Linked DNA regions of Homo sapiens: region 2 is linked to region 1. The links come from fine-mapping of genetic effects on gene expression. A gene starts in region 1. The other region holds a variant in brackets. All regions are shown on one strand. Distances are from middle to middle.

Evidence for each region. PIP is the estimated chance that this variant, and not a neighbour inherited with it, causes the effect.
Region 2: its variant is fine-mapped to the expression of PAM16 in whole blood (INTERVAL, PIP 0.98).

Annotation. Positions count from the first base shown.
Region 1 is chr16:4,346,555-4,357,271 of GRCh38, forward strand. It overlaps PAM16 (presequence translocase associated motor 16), which reads right to left and starts at 4,767. Exons shown (of 5, transcript NM_016069.11): 1 at 4,678-4,767. The coding sequence starts at 4,680. It overlaps CORO7-PAM16 (CORO7-PAM16 readthrough), which reads right to left. Exons shown (of 31, transcript NM_001201479.2): 26 at 10,614-10,705; 27 at 8,732-8,818. CORO7 (coronin 7) reads right to left here. Exons shown (of 28, transcript NM_024535.5): 26 at 10,614-10,705; 27 at 8,732-8,818; 28 at 7,988-8,609. The coding sequence ends at 8,604. RefSeq lists an enhancer at 795-1,295.
Region 2 is chr16:4,321,293-4,332,009 of GRCh38, forward strand. All of the region lies in intron 1 of GLIS2 (GLIS family zinc finger 2), which reads left to right. GLIS2-AS1 (GLIS2 antisense RNA 1) reads right to left here and starts at 7,048. Exons shown (of 4, transcript NR_110901.1): 1 at 6,968-7,048; 2 at 5,138-5,202; 3 at 3,978-4,062; 4 at 3,356-3,483. RefSeq lists enhancers at 1,101-1,886, 3,458-4,242, 7,276-8,276. The variant G/A (reference allele first, on the strand shown) is at 4,885.

The DNA of each region.
Region 1 (10,717 bases):
CACCATACTACATTCCCTCAGGGAGCTGGGAAGCAGCAAGGAAGCAGAACGAGAACCACGTTGACCTGGGACCAGAACCCTAGCTTTCTTTCTCAATAGCTGTGTGACCCTGGACAAATTACTCAACCTCTCTGAATCTTTTTTTGTTTTGGTTTGGGTCTTTTATTTTTTATTTATTTTTTTGAGACTGACTCTCGCTCTGTCACCCAGGCTAGAGTGCAGTGGTTCAATCTCGGCTCATTGCAACCTCCACCTCACCAGTTCAAACGATCCTCCTGCCTCACCCTCCCAAGTAACTGGGATTACAGGTGAACACAACCAAGCCTAGCTAATTTTGTATTTTTAATAGAGACGAGGTTTCACCATGTTGGTCAGGCTGGTCTCAAACTCCTGACCTCAGGTGATCCACCCGCCTCGGCCTCCCAAAGTGCTGGGATTACAGGCATGAGACACCACACCTGGCCTTTTTTTTGGAAGCAGAGTCTAACTCTGTCGTCCAGGCTGGAGTGCAGTGGTGCAATCATGGCTCACTTGCAGCCTCAGCCTCCCAGCCTCAAGAGATTCTCCTGCTTAAGCCTCCCGAGTAGCTGGAGCTACTTGTACTCAGCCTCCGAGGACCTGCTCTTTCCTTAACAGGCGGGATGTGATATGGGCCATTAGGGGAATGAACAAACACAAGTGGGTTAGGATTTCACAAGTAGGTGGAAATTTCATAACTTCTGGAGGCTGAGCACACGCCACCACATTTGGCTAAATGTACTTTTCTGGAGAGATGGGGTTTCGCCATGTTGCCCAGGCTGGTCTTGAACTCCTAGGTTCGCATGAACTGCCCTCCTCGGCTTCCCAAAGTGCTAGGATTACAGGTGTGAGCTACTGTGCCCAGCCTACCTCAGTTTTCTTAACTGCAAGATGGAGAGAATAACACCCTCCTCACAAGAGGACAGTAAGGCCCTCAGGAGGCAATGCCCATTAACACCACATGGACAAACAGCGGCAGGTCCAGAACTAGGCGGTGCAGGCAAGCCCCTCATCCACCTATCCAGTACCCCAACATCCCCTGAGCTTCTGCCATGGGTCAGGCTGAGTTCAGAGCTCATTCACAGGGAGCAGAGCTCTGCCAGCTGTGGCTACCATGGGTGACCAAAACAACCACTGCCTGAGGCCCCTCCCAGAGGCTCCAAACATCCCATAGTCCACCGACTGACACTTGGGCCTGAGGGTCCCAGGTGAGAGGACCCAGCTGACTTGGCATCCAACTTCAGGCCACGCGGCTGTCAGAGAGCAGCAGTCAGAAGCACAGGATCCAATCCTGGCATGCGTGGGGGCAGCATGTGCACTTCGTTGTTGGGCAGCAACCTGGCCCAAGGCAGGACCAGATCCCAGCAGCTGGGACCACAGACAGTGCTGTGGGAGGCACTCAGCAATGGGGCTTACACTGACTTGTGTCTTTGAGATTCGCGTGCAATGCGCCTTTGAGGCCAAGCCCCAGGCTCTGGGTAGATAAGCAGACAGCCTGAGACTCACTCTCAAGGACACTCTGGTCACCCAGGGCCCCTGAGAATAGATACGGGCATCACAACTAGACAGGAGAAAGGTCAGGACCACAACTGTAGCACGTGCCACAACATCAGGGACCTGGCCAGTGGCTGGCGCAGTAAGTGCCCCTGGTGCATCTGAATGAATATGGCTGTTGCAGCTTTGCCCAATCTGCTGTCTCATGAACTCCATGTCCCCAGGCAGGGTTTCCAAGCGCCTCCTAACCCTTCTGCGGGAGGGTTCTGGCCATCTCCCAGTAAACACACAATTCTCCACCGCCGCCTGCAGATTTGGTCCACTCCCCAGCTTGGCATTCACAGCGCCTGGTCTGGCCTCAACTTCTCAACCTCACCTCTCTCCACGCTGCAGCCACACCCTCTGCTCCTAGAGCCGCTCTCATACTTCTGTACTCCTCAGGGCCTTTGCTGTTCTGAGTTCCTCCACCTTGAACATCCTCCCTTCTACCCTGATCCTGTCAAAACCCAACATCCCTCAGGACCTAATATCATTCCCCATCCCCCGGGTGAAACCCTTTCCAGGCTCTCCCATGTATACCTTCCGACAGCACTTTCTTTTTTTTTTGGAGATGGAGTCTTGCTCTGTCGCCCAGGCCGGAGTGCAGTAGTGCGATCTCGGCTCACTGCAGCCTCTGCCTCCCGGGTTCAAGAAATTCTTCTGCCTCAGCCTCCTGAGTAGCTGGGACTACAGGCACACGCTGCCATGCCCGGCTAATTTTTTGTATTTTTAGTACAGAGAGGGTTTCACCGTGTTGCCCAGGCTGGTCTCGAACCCCTGAGCTCAGGTAATCCACCCAAAGTGCTGGGATTACAGGCGTGAGCCACCGTACCCGGCCTAGCACTTTCTTTTTTTTTTTTTTTTTTTGAGACGGAGTCTTGCTCTGTCACCCAGGCCGGAGTGCAGTAGCGCGACCTTCGGCTCACTGCAAGCTCGGCCTCCCGGGTTCAAGCCATTCTCCTGCCTCAGCCTCCTGAGTAGCTGGGACTACAGGTGCCTGCCACCACACCCGGCTAATTTTTTGTATTTTTAGTAGAGACGGGGTTTCACCATGTTAGCCAGGATGGTCTTGATCTCCTGACCTCGTGATCCACCCGCCTGAGACCCCCAAAGTGCTGGGATTACAGGTGTGAGCCACCGTGCCCGGCCAGCACTTTCTTTTCCTGTTAATATACTGTCATGCTGGGTGCGGTGGCTCACGCCTATAATCCCAGCACTTTGGGAGTCCGAGGCAGGAGGACTGCTTGGGCCCAGAAGTTTGAGACCAGCCTGGCAACATGGCGAAACTGCATCTCTACAAAAAATACAAAAAATTAGCTGGGCATAGTGGAGCATGCCTGTTGTCCCAACTACCCGGGAGGCTGAGGCTACTGGGGAGGATGAAATGGGAGGATCACCTAAGCCCCAGGAGGTTGAGGCTGCAGTGAGCTGTGATCGTACCACTGTACTCCAGCCTAGGAGACCCATCTGGGGCAACACAGCAAGACCCCACCTCTACATAAAATTTAAAAATTAGCCAGGTGTGCTGGCACTCACCTGTAGGCCCAACTACTTGGGGGTCTAAGGTAGGAGGATGGCTTGAGCCTAGGAGTTCAAGGCTGCAGTGAGCTAGGATCGCTCCACTGCATCCTAGCCGGGGCGACAGACAGACATCCTATCTCAAAAAACAAACCAAAAAAACCCCATGAGTTTTGGGACAGAGCTGGGCTCAAAAGAGGTCTCTGACACCATGGGATGCATGACTATGGTGGAGTCAAAACTGTCTGGGGCTCAGGTTCCTTATCTGTAAAATAAGGACAATGACAGCAGGACTTCATAAACACTAAATGAGAGACTCTACATAAAGCCTTAGCTCAGGGGCTGGCACTTGTACGCCGTTAGCTGTTACATTATCCTTATTACTATGTTAGTTAAGAAGTGGCTCCCCGAACCAGCTGCAACAGAGTCACTTGGGGAACTTACGTGTGCAGAACCTCCAGGGATAGAGCTCAAGAACCTGAACTTTTTTTTTCCCCCTCTTTTTCTTTTTGAGAGAGTTTTGCCCTGTCGCCCAGACTGGAGTGCAGTGGCACAATCTTGGTTCACTGCAGCCTCTGCCTCCTGGGTTCAAGCGATACTGGCGCCTCAACTTCCCAAGCAGCTGGGATTACAGGTGTGTGCCACCATGCCTGGCTAACATATGTATATATTATGTGTGTGTGTGTGTATATATATATATAAAATACATGATATATAAAAATATATATAACATAATAATATGTAGTATACATAAATGTATACGGTATATATAATACATATATATAATTTTTTTTTTGAGACGCAGTCTCACCCTGTCGCCCAGGCTAGAGTGCACTGGCGGATCTCGGCTCATTGCAACCTCTGTCTCGCGGGTTCAAGCGTCTGTCCTGCCTCAGCCTCCCGGGTAGCTTGGACTACAGGCGCGCACCACCCCACCCGGCTAATTTTTTAAATTTTTTGGTGGAGACCGGGTTTCATCATGTTGGCCAGGCTGGTCTCGAACTCCTGACCTCGTGATCCGCCGCCTCGGCCTCCCAGAGTGCTGGGATTACAGGCGTGAGCCACCGCGCCCAGCCAAACCTGCACTTTTAAAGCTACCCTAGGTGACCTGACAGTGTGGCGCAGGTCTGTTGACTGGCTCTACGTGCCAACGATATCACACAAACGCTCCGTGCTCGGTGTCTCGGGGCCTAGTTCAAGTCCCAGGTCAGCCACTTCCCTGGAAAGGCCAGCTTTCCACTGGGGATAACAACAGGGCAGCAACATCGACTCTGCAGCGCTGTAAGGTTCCAGGGCAGGGGAGGCGCTCACCAGCCAGACTCATGCTCCACCGCTGCCCACGGCTGCTCGCTCACACGCGGGCTAGGCACAGCGCGACCACGTTTGCCCGGCCTCTTCCAGGCAGACGGTTTTCCCTGGCCCTGAGGCCGCCGGTGCCGCCGCTGCCGGCCTCGATTCCCCCGGGTGCAACGCCCCCAGACCATGCTTCCCGCCGGGCACGCAGGGGGCGCACGGCGCCCGCCGCCCAGCCCGGAGCTCGCCGCCCGGCCCCCGGCCCCCGGCCCGACTCGGCTTCCCCTCCCCGGTAGCGCCCGACTCGGGGCTCACCATGGCAGCCGCTCTGCCTCCGGGGCTCAAACTCCGACTTCCTGGCCCCGCGGCCGGGGATCAAGCGTGGTCGGCGGGTCAGAGGTCAAGGAAAGCCGCAGAGAGCGCGTGCGCGATACGGCGCTGGGCATGCGCATTGCCTCAGTCTAAGGGCGGGCCACCGGGAGCGTCTTAGCGGCTCGGGGCGGGGTCGGAGGCGGGGTTTGACTGAGCCTGCGTCGGGCTCTGGATAACTGGGGGCGGGCTTGGGAGGGCAAGGGGCGTTACCGGGAGTCTCAATTGCCCGCGTGCTTACCCCAGTGCGCTGGAGCAGCTAAGCACATCGGTCAGACGTGGGGCGATTTCTGCCCTTGATTTTGCCAAAATATTTGGGAATGCAACATTATATGAAATCAATGAACATAATATGGAGTAGGATGCTAAATTCTCAAAAATACTTTAGAAAATAGAAAACTTCAAAATAGGTTTCATCCACATTCCTCCTGCCTGAGAAGCTCGTTCCCTTCTTCAAATCTTTGCTCAAATGTCACCTCAATGAGGCCCACCTGGACCCCTTAAAACGCCGTGACTTGCCCTCCATGAATGAAAAAAGTAACAGCTTTATTGAGATATAATCCATACACTGTAGATTTCATGATTTTCAAGTGCACAGTCCAATGCCTTTTATTCACAGAGCTGTGCCACTGTCACCACTATTAGTTCCAGAACGTTTTCATCACCCATTAGTCACTCCCCAGCCCCCTCCCCCAGCCCCTGTCAACCACTCATTTTTCTCTCTATGGATTCACAGGTTCCGGACATTTCATAGAAATGGAATCATACAAGCCAGGCGTGGTGGCTCATGCCTGCAATCTCAAAACTTTGGGAGGCCGAGGTGGATCGCTTGAGGTCAGGAACTCAAGGCCAGGCTGGGCAACATGGTGAAACCCCATCTCTACAAATACAAAAATTAGCCGGGTGTGGTGGCAGGTGCCTGTAATCCCAGCTACTTGGGAGGCTGAGTGGTGGATCTCTTGAGCCCGGGAGGTACAGGCTGCAGTGAGCTGTGATCACTGCACTCCAGCCTGGGTGACAGAGTCAGGCCCTGCCTCAAAAAAAAAAAAAAAAAAAAAAAAGGTAAAAATGAAAAATGAAAAAAAAGAAGAAATTGAATCATACAATGTGCAGCCTTTTGTGACTGGCTTATCCTCCCTTCTTGTCTCTATTTTTCTTCCAAGACTCTGATCACCCTCTACCATACCACATAATTTACTTATTTATTTTATTTATCATTTTGAGACAGGGTCTCACCCTGTCGCCCAGGCTGGAGTCCAGTGGCACAATCCTGCCTCACTGCAACCTCCACCTCCCAGGTTCAGGCGATGCTCATGCTTTAGCCTCCTGAGTAGCTGGGATTACAGGCATGGACCACCATGCCCCATTAATTTTTGAATTTTTAGTAGAGACAGGGTTTCACCATGTTGGCCAGGCTGGTCTTGAACTACTGGTCTCAAATGATCCACCCGCCACAGCCTCCCAAAGTGCTGGGATTATAGGCATGTGACACTGTGCCCAACCGGTTTTTTATTTTTAAATTATTTTTCCTTTTTTTTTTTTTTTTGAGATGAAGTCTTGCTCTGTCACCCAGGCTGGAGAGCAGTGGCCCAATCTTGGCTCACTGCGATCTCCACCTCCTGGGTTCAAGTGATCCTCCCACTTCAGCCTCCGAAAGTGCTGGGATTACAGGTGTAAGCCACCGTGCCCAGCCAAAAAAAAATTTTTTTTTTTCAAGATAGGGTCTCACTCTGTTGCCCAGGCTGCAGTACAGTAGCATGATCATGGCTCACTGCAGTCTTGACCTTCCAGCCTTGAGTGATACTTTCACCTCAGCTTTCTGAGTAGCTGGGACCACAGGCATGTGCCAACACATGTGGTTAATGTTTGTTTTTTGTCTTTTTGAGAGCGTCTCCCTGTTGCCCAGCCTGGAGTGCAGTGGCATGACCTCGGCTCACTGCAACCTCTGCTTCCTGGGTTCAAGAGATTCTCTTGCCTCAGCCTCCTGAGTAGCTGGGACTACAGGCATGGGCCACCATGTCCGGCTAATTTTTTGTATTTTTAGTAAAGACGGGGTTTCACCGTGTTAGCCAGGATGGTCTCGTGCTCCTGACCTCGTGATCCGCCTGCCTTGGCCTCCCGAAGTGCTCGGATTACAGGCGTGAGCCACCGCGCCCAGCTAATGTTTGTATTCTTTGTAGAGACAAGGGTTCCCCTATGTTGCCCAGTCTGACCTCAAACTCCTGGGTTCAAGCAATCCTCCCACCTTGGCCTCCCTTTATTTTTATGTTTATTGTTGAGAATCTGTTTCCTTCCACTAGAATGGGAGTTCCTTTTGGGCAAGCATTTCCTCTCTCTTCTCTGCTGTTAGATGTCAAGCGCCTGGAAGAGCATCTGGCGCACAGCATTCGGCAAATGGTGGGATGAAAGTTGGGCCACCTGGAATCCTACTCTACACCGCTGCCCTTCTTCCTCTTCCTCCTGGCCTCCACATTCCTCTCTCTGTGCCCACATTGTACTTCCTTGCCTCGGAAGTGGCTCTCTCCCTGGCTGGCTCCTCATCAGCCTTCAAGTCTTGGCTCTTAGCTGAAAGTCACCTTCTCAGGCCCTGAATTCCCTGCCTCGCTGCATCCCAGTTGCTTCCTGTCCCACAGGTTTTTTTGTTTGTTTGTTTGTTTTTTGAGACTGAGTCTTGCTCTGTCACCCAGGCTGGAGTGCAATGGCAGGATCTTGACTCACTGCAACCTCTGACTCCTGGGTTCAAGCAATTCTCCTCCCTCAGCTTCCCAAGTAGCTTGGATTACAGGCGCTTACCACTACACCTGGCTACTTTTTGTATTTTTAGTAGAGACAGCGTTTTACCATGTGGGCCAGGCTGGTCTTGAACTCCTGGCCTCAAACGATCCTCCCACCTTGGCCTCCCAAAGTGCTAGTATTATAGGCATGAGCCACCGTGCCCAGCCAGTTTCTCTTCTTTACTGCTGTCTTCACACTCTATATGCTCGTGTGCAGTCTGGTTCCCCTGCATAAGGAGGCTGTAAGAAGCTGAAGGTCCTTGCAAGACCTTATCTCTCCTGTCCTTTATAGCATCCCGCCATCCAGAGCACTGCCAGGAACCTGCATGGTGAGCGAATGACTCCCAGCAGTGCGCAGGTGATTGGGCCTTGGGACCAGAGTGAGGCTGAGATAAAGGGGAGCCCAGGGCCAGACCCCTGTCACCCACATTCCTGTCCCCTTCCCTTTCCAGCCAGCCCAGAGACCACAGCAGCACAAGAGGTGGCCAGCTTAAAAAAGTTTAATTGCTGAAAACATCCAAGGCAGGTGCGGGCCAGTCCCTGCGGGGCTCACACCCCCCTTATTGGACCATCAGCTCTGTGATGCCCCCTTCTCCTGGCTACAAACCTGGGAAGTAGGGCAGCTGGTCCCAGGGCCCTGAGACTGGTGCTGCTCTAGAAGGCCTGGTGGGGGGCCAGCCCCCAAGGCCCTTGACCAGAACTGGAACAGCAGGCAAGATGGGGCAGCGTGGGGTGACCAAAGATCCTGGATGAGGCCAATCCAGGCTGGGACCAGCCCAGGTCAGCAGTGAGACCAGGGGAGACAGGGTGCCCAGGGCCTGCCCAGGGACATGCTGCTGACCCCCCGCCACCCTGCACCCCTGGCCACATGCTAGCGGGCAGCTGATGAGCAGCAGCTGACCCCAGAGACAGCAGAGGTGAAAACAGTCCCTGGGAACTGCCAGAGGCCCAGAGGATGTGGAAGTGCCCACGGGAAGGCAGGAGTGCAGGGGTGACATGTGCCGGGGCCAGAGAGGTATCTTCCAGCTTGAGGATGAGCCGTGAGGTGTGCACTAGGAAGTGGCAGCACAGGTGAGGTGGAGGTGACGGGGGCGCAGGCTAGTCCTGGGGCGAAACACCAAGAGGTGGGAGGGAGTCAGGAGGGCCTGGGAAGGGAGGAGGCATGCACCGTGGCATGTGCGAGGGACCGCGCTGCCTGCCGGGAAGTGAGGCCACTCACTACTCACCCACTCGTCCTCGTCCACGCCTTCAAAGGAGTCCTGGGGGAGTGGGTCCTCCCGGTTCCCCAGTTTTGCCACCATGGCATTCAGCAGCTGGGAGAGAGGGCAGAAGAAGGGTAGGTAAGGGAATAGGACTCCCTGTTCCCTCTCCCACTCCAAGAACAACCCTGACAAGGCTGTGAAAAGAACTTTTTTTTTTTTTTTAGACGGAGTCTTGCTCTGTCGCCCAGGCTGGATGGAGTGCAGTGGCGCGATCTCGGCTCACTGCAAGCTCTGCCTCCCGGGTTTACACCACTGTCCTGCCTCAGCCTCCCAAGGAGCTGGGATTACAGGCGCCCACCACCATGCCCGGCTAATTTTTTGTATTTTTAGTAGAGACGGGGGTTTCACCGTGTTAGCCAGGATGGTCTCGATCTCCTGACCTCGTGATCCGCCCGCCTCGGCCTCCCACGGTGCTGGGATTACAGGCGTGAGCCACAGCGCCCGGCCTTTTTGTTTGTTTGTTTGTTTTAGAGAGAGACAAGGTCTTGCTCTGTCACCAAGGCTGGAGTGCAGTGGTGCAATCATGGCTCACTGCAGCCTTGACTTTCTGGGTGCAAGCAATTCTCCTGCCTCAGCCTCCCAAGTAGCTGGGACTACAAGTGTGTAACACCACACCTGGTTAATTTTTATTTTATTTATTTATTTTTTTGAGACAGAGTTTTGTTCTTGTTGCCTAGGCTGGAGTGCAATGGCACAATCTCGGCTCACCACAACCTCTGCCTCCTGGGTTCAAGCGATTCTCCTGCCTCAGCCTCCCAAGTAGCTGGGATTACAGGTATGCGCCACCATGCCCGGCTAATTTTGTGTTTTTAGTAGAGACGAGGTTTCATCATGTTGGTCAGGCTGGTGTCGAACTCCCAACCTCAGGTGATCCGCCCTCCTCGGCCTCCCAAAGTGCTGGGATTACAGGCGTGAGCCACCATGCCTGGCCACACCTGGTTAATTTAAAAAATTTTTTTGTAGAGATGGGGTTTCACTGGTCTCAGGCTGGGTCTCAAACTCCATCACTTATATCCTCTTGCTTTGGTCTCCCAAAGTGCTGGGATTACAGGTGTGAACCACCATGCCTGGCCAAAAGAGCCACTATATTTTATTTTTATTTTTATTTTTATTTATTTATTTATTTATTGAGACGGAGTCTCGCTCTGTCACCCAGGCTGGAGTACAGTGGCACGATTTCGGCTCACTGCAATCTCCACCTCCTGGGTTCAAGTGATTCTCCTGCCTCAGTCTCCCGAGTAGCTGGGATCACAGGCGCCCGCCACCATGCCCGGCTAAATTTTTGTATTTTAGTACAGACGGGGTTTCACCGTGTTGCCCAGGGTGGTCTCAAACTCCTGAGCTCAAGCAATCCGCCTGCCTTGGGCTCCCAAAGTGTTAGGATTACAGACATGAACCACCGTGCCCGGCCTCAAAAGAGCCATTTTAATTACAGCCCTGACAAAATCGATGGGTTTCTATTGAAAAAGACACAAAGAAGAGACAGGGGGAGTAAGAGACTGAGAGGCTGCGGCATGTGGCACCAGATACAAGGGCTACTATCTCTGCACATGGCCTCAAGTGCTCAAAATATACTCCAAGGTCCCAAAAGCACTTGGGCCCAGAACTGCCGGCTTAGGCTGGGTTTGGCCTGGCCAGGGCAGGGCTCCCACTGCCCTCCCCCACTTCCCGGGCCCCATGGTCAGTGGTAGGGCTCTGGAAGGTCTCCCCACCAGGCTCTGGTGTGAAGGGGACGTGACATGTGGCTGCTGTCCCAGTCTGGGTTGGGGATGGAGAACTAAGGGGCCGTGGCCAGGTGCAGCCAGGACTCTGTCACCTCCGCACAGCTGCTCTCTCCCATGCCTACCTCCTCCTTCTTTTGCTGGTCAGACTTTTCTTCCAGGTACTGCGCTGAGGATGGGGCCCGACGAGCAGGGGCCTCTCGGGGGGCTTGGCTCACTGGGACAGAGC
Region 2 (10,717 bases), 25 kb before region 1:
GGGAGAAAGAGGCATCTATGTCAGGAGACCAGCCCCTGCTTCTAGCCTTGACCTTGGGCAAGTCACATTCCTCTTTGGGCACGAACCCCTCCATACCTACCCCTCCCCTCCTCACTTGGGGGTAAAGGCGGGAATGTCTGTCGAGTGAATGAATACATGAATGAGACGGACTCATTCGCGGAGTGCCAGGTGTTGGGATATGTGAAGGGCAGGTACCACTGTGCCACCTAAGATGAGTGGTTGGGGTTGTTGGAGCTTCGGCTGTCCTCTCAGCAGGCCCCCTCCTGTGGATGGGGAAACCCAGGCCTAGTTTTCTCATTCTGGGTTCCCTGCCTCACTGCCCAGTTCACTCTGGTGGATGGGGTGGGCTCCGTGCCAGGGGCCGTGGGAACTGGGGCAGGGGTCTGCTGGTGAGGCCTTCTCTTCAGTAGCCACAGCGGGTTTGGAGCTGCCCGGCGTCCCAGACATGTCCCGGCCCACTCCCAGGCTCCCTTCTTGGAAGGAGGCTCTGGATACCAGGGCCAGTGGGAGGCCTGGGGCTGAAGGTCGGCGCTGTGTACACCACGCTGTGCACAGGTGACACTGGCTTCAGTGATGCATTGGCAAGGACTTGGACCCGGGACAGCCTGCCTCCAGCGGGGGTGGACAGAGGCAAGTCTTTGCCCAGCAGGCCCTCAGGTACCTGGACCCACAGCCTGTGTGCAGCTCCAGAAACCGAGGCTGGGGAGGGTGAACCAGGGAGCACTTGGTGGAGGAGGGGGCAGAAGGGGATGGTGGCTGGAGGAAAGAGAACAGGGGGGCATGGATGGTGGTGAGGGAGGAGCTGGCACCTGGGAGCATCAGGTTCCCAGGGGGCAGGGGATCCTGAGGAAGGGGGGTGCCAAAGGAGAGGGCCTGGGGCAGGAGGCTCTGGGCTGAGAGAGCAGGTGGCACTCTTCTGTGTAGAGCCCTCTGTGGCTCCCCAGTGCCCTCTAGGTTCTGTCCCAGCCTCTCTGAGGGGCCTCTTTCTCTCCTGCCTCCTCGTCTACTCCATGACTGGTAGGGTCACTGCAGATCAGCCGGGCCATAGCCTCTGGTCCTCTGTGGCACTGGGCTTTGGGGTCTGCTGGCGAACCCAGCTGTGCCCCTTGCTGGCTGTGACAGTGGCAGGTTTCCCCACATGGAAAATGGGGAAAATGGCATCCATTCGCGGGGTCATCAGGGTGATGGACTGTGTGCAGCAGGCATGCTGACCGGGCGCCGACCCGCAGGGCTCCCACCTCCCCAAGGCTCTTCACCCCATATCCATGAGGCTGACCCGGATCTGTGCCCAACCCCCTGCAGGAGCAGCCCCCCCCCTACACTGTTTCTCCCACCCCACCTTGGTCGGGGCACCCTCAAGGTCCGGTTCGATCTAGCAGGGCCTGGCGTTGGAATGCATGAATGCGTGGTTGGAGAACCGAGGCAGGAGGGCAGGCCAAGGTCCACCGCCCGCCTTACCCACTCCTGCTCTCGGAGTTGGCGGGTGCCGTTCCCAGTGGACCTGGTACCTGGCCCCAGGCAGGGGAGGCGTGGGCCACGGGCCTGCCCCGACCCCCCAGGACTTAGGAGCTCCTTGTGGGATCTGCCTGCAGCCAGGCGTGGCTTGGGAGGCGCGGTGTTTCCTTCGCTCTGGGGACCCGGCCTCATCCCTGCTCTCCCCCAGAAGCCAAGGCTCCTGAGTCCTGGCCCCGACACTGGGGCAAGGGGTTACTGTGATGTCCTGTGTGTGCCACATTTGTGCACAGGTGTCTGTACATCCGGGGGTGCTGTGGGTGCCTGCTCATGTCCTGTGCTACACTGGCCCATCCCTTTGCTGGCCTCAGATAGCTCTGGCTGGGTCTGCTGAGAATGGCAGTGCCGCCTGGCAGGGCCTGGGCTGTCTGTGCCCCAGCCTTGCTGGGCGTGCATCCCTGTCTCGCTCCCTGGTGCCAGCCCCTCCCAGGGATTTGGGTGGCAGGGCCCAGTGCTCTGGTCCCCTCCCCTCCCAGCCCGGGTGGGTGGGCAGGTGTGGGGGCTGCGGGGCGGGCTTTCCTCTGGCTGGGGCCCAGGTGCAGGCGGTGATCATAGCTCCAAGCACCCCCCCAAAGCTGGGCAGACAGGAAAATACCAGACATAGTTGTGCAAAGGTGCAGCAGCGGGCAGGCAGCGGGGGGGTGGAGGCCACTGCAGCAGGGGCCCGGAGCCACCAGGATGGGGAGGCCTCTGTGCCAGGCCGGCCCTGCAGCTGGACTGCCATGGCCATCTGTGTGAGTGTGCGTGTGTGTGCCGGGGCTCCCGGAGCCCGGTGTCACCCTCCCTGCTGGCGTTGGAGAAGGAAGTGCCTCTGGTGGGGCATCTCCTAGGAAGCCCGGGCTGGTGCAGGCCAGGGAAGCCCTCCGGCCCGTCTTCCAGCTTCAGCTCTGCCTGAATTATCTGGGTGACCTTGGCAGGCCCAAGTTGCTGTGCAGGGAACCCCCAGCCTGGGGCCGGAAACAAGAATCCTTTAGGTTACCAGTAGCTGGCAGCTTCTTTATGGCAGGCATGAGGACAAGGCCCTCCCTTGCAAGATGCCCTGAGTCCCAGGGACCATTGCCGTGGTGTCTGTTACCTACAAGGAAACCAAGGCTCAGAGACAGCAGGGCCTTTCTGAGTTCCCACAGCCAGGGGTGGCACAGGGGGCTGTAACCAGGCAGCCTGGCCCTGGGGCACACTCTGTGAACACGCAGAAAAAAGATCCCTGGCACATCCCATCTTCAGGTGCTTTCCCGAGGACCCCACGGCAGAGGGCAGAGGTCAGCCCTGGCTGGGTCACCTCGGACCCCTTGTGTTCCCACCCCGGGAGGGGGTCTGCCCTCCCAAAAGGTCCGGGGGTGCTGGCTGAGTGCCCCGTCTTGGGAGGGGGAGGGGCTGCCTACTGAGCCAAAGGTTCCCAGGGACGGTGAATCCCCCACTCTTCCAGGAAGTGCCGCCTGCCCTGGCCCCTCTCCTGGGATCTGCTGGGCCAGGCCTCAGGATAAGCTCCTCCCCCTCCAGTCCTGGGAGGAGGCCTGTCTGCGGCCAGCTCCTTCCAGGGTTGATCAGGCCTTCCCGGGGCCTTGTAGTGCTCTTTCTTTGATGCAGTTGGGCTCTGGAAGGTGGTTAGGGCCAGCTGTGGTCACTCCCCAGGATTGAAGAGGCCTGAGGTTCTTTGAGGGGCATAGGCTTGTTTAGGGTGCACGCTGGCTGGCAGGTGGCAGAGCCCAGGTTCTCCTGGTTCAGGGTGAGACTGCAGTGGCATAGAGGGGATGGCCAGTCCCCACTCAGCTGCCCTCACAGCGGTAGATGGGCCAAAGGCTATGGACTCATGCACACTGGCGACGATTCATTCAGCACGTTTTATTAAGCACCTACTATGTGCCAGGCACTGTTCTCCGTGCTGAACGTTACGGACGAAGGAGAAGCACTCAATAGTGATTGGATGTGCAGCACTGCATTGGTTTCTCCCTGAAACCCAACATGGGGGTCCTATATAATCCCATTTGGGATGAGGGGGATGAGGCGCAGACTGAAGAGACACGCAAAGGGAGTAGCAGAGCCGGGTGGGGCCCCAGATTTCGAGTCCGGTTCTGTTGCCTGGTCAGGAAGGGGGGCCCTGAGAGGACGAGCCCTCCTGCCTGGGGCCCCCAGCAGGCCCTGCCCCTGCCCGCCAGCCCCTGCTGCTGGGCGGCCAAGGAGGGTGGAGCTCTTGGCCAGAGCAGGGAGCCGCAGCTGGTTCCCAGGAATCTGGGGCTGTGGGGCCGTTTGCTTTGGCAGCAGATCTGCCCTCGGCTCTCCAAGCCTCCTGGTGGGCCCCCCACCCCAGCCAGCCCCTCCAGCGCCCACCCACTGCCTGCTCTGCTATCCCTCCTAGCCCCACAAGTCCCTGGGCGGGGAGGGGGTACCAAGCCTGAGCCCCTGACATAGGAAGGGCCAATAGTGAACATGGCTTCTGGACTTACCTGGGGTTGAAACCCAGCTCTGCCACGGACAAGCTGTGGGACCTTGGATGGGTCACTTCACTCCCCTGAGCCTCAGTTTTTGCATCTGTAAAATGGGGATGAAACAGCACCTGCCTTCACAGTACCCGCACCTGGCTATGGGTACTGTCCTCATGCTGCTTGCCCGTGGCTTCTGGTTGTGGGTTTGCCACCTACTTGTGCAGCCTGGGCTGGATGCCTCCCCCTTCAGCCCTCAGTTTCCCCATCTGTAAGACCATACTGCTGAAGTGATGGTTCCAGTAATAGACTCAGGGACACCCACAGACCAGGGTTTCTCTGACTGGTTCAGGAGTGACCAGGGACTCACTTCCTCTTTCTGTTAAATTAGAAGATGACGGGCTGGGCGTGGTGGCTCCTGCCTGTAATCCTAGCACTTTGGGAGGCAGAGACAGGAGGATGGCTTGAGTCCAGGAGATCGAGACCAGCCTGGATGACACAGGGAGACCCCCCCATCTCTGCAAAATAAAAAATTTAAAAATGAGCTGGGTGTGGTGGTGGTGCACCTGTGGTCCTAGCTGCTCTGCAGGCTGAGGCAGGAGGATCTCTTGAGCCTCGGCGGCAGTTAGCCATGACCACGCCACTGCAGTCCAGCCTGGGAGACAGAGCAAGACTCTGTGTCTTAAAAAAAAAAAAAAAAAAAAAAAAAAAGGCCAGACTTGGTGGCTCACGCCTGTAATCCCAGCACTTTGGGAGGCCGAGGTGGGCGGATCACGAGGTCAGGATATCGAGACCATCCTGGCTAACACGGTGAAACCCTATCTCTACTAAAAAAATACACACAAAAAAATTAGCCGGGTGTGGTGGTGGGCGCCTGTAGTCCCAGCAACTCAGGAGGCTGAGGCAGGAGAATGCTGTGAACCTGGGAGGC[G/A]GAGCTTGCAGTGAGCTGAGATCGTGCCACTGCACTCCAGCCTGGGTGACAGAGTGAGACTCCATCTCAAAAAAGAAACAAACAAAAAAAACAAAGGTGACCACATAGACTTCTGAGAGATGCATCTTGAGGCCTTGTCTCCAAGTTCTCAGCTAAATGGCCACTGCTGACCAAAAGCGCACTCGCAGGACACTCCAAGGCAAGGGGTGTTCCTCACATTGCCCTTGACAACACTGCCACGCTGGTCACTCACCTGACCCCATGCTGCTGGGAGCGGGGCAGGGATGCAGCCCCATCTTACAGAGGACCCGCTTCCTTCTGCAAAGAGACCAAGTGGTTCTCAGGGTGGGTGCACACAGCCCCCCAGTGCACCCTGCACCTCCACAGGCTTAGGGCCTGCCAGCCACCCTCCCCCAAGCAGGAAAGGAGGAGCTTTTTTTGTTGTTTTTTGAGACAGGCCGGAGTGCAGTGGTGTGATCTCGGCTTACTGCAGCCTCAAACTCCCCAGGCTCAGGCGATCCTCCCACCTCAGCCTCCCGAGTAGCTGGGACCACAGGTCCCTGCTTCCACGCCCAGCTATTTTTTTTTTTTTTTTTTTTTCCGAGATGGAGTCTCACTCCGTCGCCCAGGCTGGAGTGCAGTGGCGCGATCTCAGCTCACTGCAACTTCTGCCTCCCTGGTTCAAGCGATTCTCCTGCCTCAGCCTCCCGGGTAGCTGGAATTACAGACACCTGCCACCACGCCCGGCTAATTTTCGTATTTTTAGTAGAGAGAGCGTTTCGCCATGTTGGCCAGGCTGGTCTGGAACTCCTGACCTCAGGTGGTCCGCCCTCGGCCTCCCAAAGTGCTGGGATTACAGGCATGAGCCACCGTGCCCGGCCACCGGCTGATTTTTTTACTTCAAACGGGATTTTTCCATGTTGCCCAGGCTGGTGTAGAACTCCTGCACTCAAGGGATTCTCCTGCCTCGGCCTCCCAATGTGCTGGGCTTACAGGCGTCAGCCACCGCGCCTGGCCTAGAAGGAGCTTTATTCAGAGCAGGACTCCAACCAGCTCCCTATTAGCCTAGTGATCTCAAGCCTCAGTTTCCCCATCTGTGAGATCGGGAAAATGACAGCAGCTACTGCCAGGCAGGGTTGTAGAGGGGTCATTGAATCCATGGACAGATGGGCCTGACACGTGGTCAGTACCTAATGGTCCTTTACCCCCTCTGGTGTATGACCCACCCCAGGCCAAGGGGCCCTGGAAGAGACTGTCTTTTCCGGGCCTTAGTTTCCCTGAGTGTGCTGGGTCGCCCCGTGCCTTCCAGTAGGGAGGGTGGGGACAGTGGCCGGCCCCGCCTGCCAGGGCGGGATCCTTGGCTACCTGGCCTGGCCGGGGACTGCGGGCGGGGGGCCGGGTGGCTCCGCCAGCGCTGCAGCTGGGGGCCGTCTGCTCGGGCTGCGGTCGGGCACACAATAGCAGCCATTGTCTCGGCCAGGGTGGCGGGGGGCCCGCCCAGCCCACCCTCCGGGTGACCCCCGCCCTGCGGTGGGTGGGAAGGGCAGGGCCCGGTCCCCCGAAGCCCCCGCCGTCCCGGTGGTCCCCGCGGCCGCCCCCGCGCGCTTCCTCCCTCGCCGCAGCCGCTTCCTCCCGCTCGCCCCGCTCTAATTAGTTCCTTTTGCAGCTGGAGGAGCCGCGCAGCGGCCGGTTCCGCGGCCACCCCCACCCCCCACCGACAACCCCAGCCCTCGCCCCAACCCCTGGGCCCTTGCGTGTGGGGGCGCTGCCCTGGGCGCATCCCAGGCTGAGTGCTCGAGAGACGCGGCCCTGGGCTCTGTGCACCCTCCACGCTGCGCTGTCCCACCGGGGGGAAACTGAGGAACGGAAGGCTCCACCAGGAGGCGCAGAGGGGCGTGGGGCCGGCGGGCCTTGCGCTGCGCCCGGGGAGCATCCACGGGGTGCCCCCACCTGACCGAGAGCCGGCTCCTGCCCTCGGGACCCCGCAGTAATTAGCACCCAGGCCTCTGGCTGAGCTTGTCCAGAGCCAGGCTGTCGGCCTTACGCTGGGGAGAGCCACGGCCACCCGCTCATGGGCACTCACTCAGGGTTCCCTGGTTGCAGGCCCGCTGCTCCCCGCTCTGGGCCTCCGAGGCTTTCAGGAGAGCAGGAACCTAGCTCTCGCCTGCCCCCTTCACCCAGCCGGGAACAAAAGCACAGAGCAGAGCCCAGAACTGGCTGCTGCCGGTCGGGGCGGGGGTGGAAGGGGAGGCTTTAAGCCTGGCCAAGGTCAGAACTGAAGCAGGGTCACTGACCGTCTCCCCTCTGGGGTGGGGCCTCCATTGGAGGAAAAACTCTGGGTGGGGAGGGCCTGGAACAGGGATGCTGGGAGGTGTAGGGCTGGGGGCAGCTCCTTCCTTTCCCGGGGGCAGGGACGCAGGCCGTGTGCCGGGCTCTGGCCTGCATTGGAATGAACCCCTGCCTCCCTGGCAGGACCCAGTGGCAGGAAGTGTGTGGGGGTGCCCCTGGGGACTGGACCTGCTGATGAAGGGGGTGCATTGGAGTCCTCCCTCTGGCTTTGGGCCGTGTGGCTGGCCCCACCTGGGGAGACAGGCTCCTCCTGGGGAAGTGTCCCCTGCAGGCCCTAAGAACAAGGTGACTCAGGGCCCCTGGCTCCCCGAGTCCCCATCTGTCCTGGGAAGGCAGTGGGGCAGGTGCCAAAGGATGTTGCTTGGGCAGCGCTGCCAGTGAGTGTCCCCGTCAGCTGGAATTCCCAGTTCCCAAACCATCCTGCCCTTGTGGTCCCCTTCTCCGGAAGGGTGGGGGTGGGGGTGAGGACAGAGGCTGTGGGGAGGCCTGTGGCCCCAGGCCAGCCAAGGGACCAGGCCACCAGCCCTTCCTGGCTCCTGAATTCTTCATCAGCATAAATATTTACTTCCTTCCTCCCCGTCCAGGCTTCCAGCACAGAGGAGCTTCGGGGAGGCTGGATTGCGCCTGTGTCTAAAAATAAACAGGTAGCAGGACGATAGACACACAGATAGACAGATGGAACTGGCAGGGGTTCAGGCAGAGGGCAACTCCCTGTCCAGCCAGAGAAACAGTGGAGGGGACCCTGGTCCATCCATCACTGTCACCCACCCACCTGCTAGCGGGGGTGTGGTCCCTACCCCACCGCATCTCTGGGAGCCCCTGGCCCATGCATGGCCTGGGAGGCAAATTCAAACAATCTGACAGCTCCAACAGGGGCGAATCGCAGACCTAGGTCCCACGGCCTAGTGCAGCTGCCCTGGCTCTGATGATGCAGCCTTGGGAGAGGTGGGCAGCCCCCCTGTGCTGAGACCCCCGTGTCAGCCATGTTGGGGTGGGGTCTGGGGATGTGTCCCTAGAAGCAGAGGATCTCCAGTGAAGGGGGGACCATTTTATGCCCTACTTGCTTGGAGAGTCAGGGCAGAAGGGGAGGACGTGGGAGCTGCCTTCCTGTCCTGCCCTGTGGACAGCATCTCTCCCCACTCACAGGCTATGCTAGCCCCCAGGGAAACACACGGGGGCATATCCAAAGTATTTCACCATGTAGTAGTTATGTCCACCATGGCCGCCCTTTGGTATTGAGTAAAGACCCCAATACCGCGAAAGACGGGATCTCACAGCGTGATTGTGCGGCAGTTAGATTTTCAAGTTGTAATAATCCCAATGAACAAACGCAAGGAAATGTCGTGTTTAACCGCGTAGGAAAAGATTGCTGCTCTGAATGTGAAGTTTGGGTTTAGAATGAAGTGTTGACCTTGTTCTTGGGTCGGTGGATACTGTTAGATCATTTGCATGTGAGGAAAATTACACCAGGTGGGGCGAGGTGGCTCACACCTGTAATCACAGCACTTTGGGAGGCCGAGGTGGGCAGATCACCTGAGGTCAGGAGTTTGAGACCAGCCTGGCCAACATGGTGAAACGCTGTCGCTACTAAAAATAGAAAAATTAGCTGGGTGTGATGGTGTACACCTGTAATCCCAGCTACTTGGGAGGCTGAGGCAGGACAATCGCTTGAACTCGGGAGGCAGAGGTTGCAGTGAGCCCAGATCACACCACTGCACTCCAGCCTGGGTGACTGAGAGACTCCATTTCCAAAAAGAAAATGAAAATTAAACCAGTGAGAAATTCTAAGAAAAATGATGAAAATTACAGCATGGGAAGTGATACTAAAAGAATACCATCTCCAGTAAAAAATAATTTCTACATATTTATATATTAACCGCCAGATACAGCTGGTCAACTCCACCAACCCTGCCCCAGCTGGCCAGGCCAGGCCACAATCCCCAGCTGCCCCCTGGTGGCGACCCAGCGCCCTGGGGCTCCCTGGCTTGCGATGCCTCTCCTCTAGGCCTCTGCAGGGAGGGCGGTGGGGCCCCTGGCTGTGCCCACTTTCTCGGTTTGCCTGGTGCGAGTTCCTTGGTGGTGAGCGTGGCTACCTGCCGGCCATTTCAGAGGATGCTCCTTGCCCCCTGGCCTGGTTCTAGATCTTTGGGGTCAAACAGGGCGGGAGTCCGGAGCATGGCTCCTGCTCTGTCAGAAAAGGCTGTTAGGACACGGCTAGCCAGTTCCCGGGAGATCTGGCTTCAGGCCTTGAATCTTGTTGGGAACAGGCCCCCCAAAATCTGGCTGTAAACTAGCCCCAAAACTGGCCATAAATAAAATCTCTGCAGCGCTGTGACATGTTCATGATGGCCATGACGCCCACGCTGGAAGGTTGTAGGTTTACCAGAATGAGGGCAAGGAACACCTGGCCCACCCAGGGCGGAAAAACTGCTTAAAAGCGTTTGGCTTTTTGTTTGTTTGTTTGTTTTTGAGACGGAGTCTTGCTCTGTCGCCCAGGCTGGAGTGCAGTGGTGCGATCTCGGCTCACTGCAAGCTCTGCGTCCCGGGTTCACACCATTCTCCTGCCTCAGCCTCCCGAGTAGCTGGGACTACAGGCGCCCGCCACCACACCTGGCTAATTTTTTTTTTTGTTATTTAATAGAGTTGGGGTTTCAGCGTGTTAGCCAGGATGGTCTCTATCTCCTGACCTCGTGATCTCCCCGCCTTGGCCTCCCAAAGTGCTGGGATTACAGGTGTGAGTTACTGCGCCCGGCCACAGGCGTTCTTGAACCACAAACAATGGCATGAGTGATCTGTGCCTTAAGGACACGCTCCTGCTGCAGATAACTAGCCAGACCCATCCCTTTATTTCCCATAAGGAATACTTTCAGTTAGTCTATAATCTATAGAAACTATGCTAATGACTGGCTTGCTGTCAATAAATACGTGGGTAAATCTCTGTTCAAGGCTCTCAGCTCTGAAGGCTGTGAGACCCCTGATTTCCCACCCCACACCGCTATATTTCTGCGTATGTGTCTTTAATTCCTCTAGCGCCGCCGGATTAGTCTCCCGACCGAGCTGGTCTTGGCAAATCTGATAGTTTTTCCACTTCTGAGCTCTGCGATCTGAGGCGATGCCTGTAAAAGACGCAGTTTCGCCAAGCGTGGTGGCTCAGGCATGTAGTCCCAGCGTTTTGGGAGGCCAAGGCAGGAGGATCGCTTGAGGCCAGGAGTTCGAGATCAGTTTGGGCAACATGGAGAGACCCGATCTCTACAAAAAAGAAAATTTTTTTTTTTAATTAGCCAGGAGCGGTGCCTGCCTGTAGTCCCAGCTACCAGGGAGGCTGAGGTGGGAGGATCGCTTGAGCCTAGGAGGTCGAGGCTGCAGTGAGCTATGATTGTGCCACTTGCACTCCAGCCTGAGTGACAGAGCGAGACTCTGTCAGCAAATAAAATTCAGTTTCATGGCAAAATGAAGAATGTGAGCTTTGTCTTCCCCAAGAGAC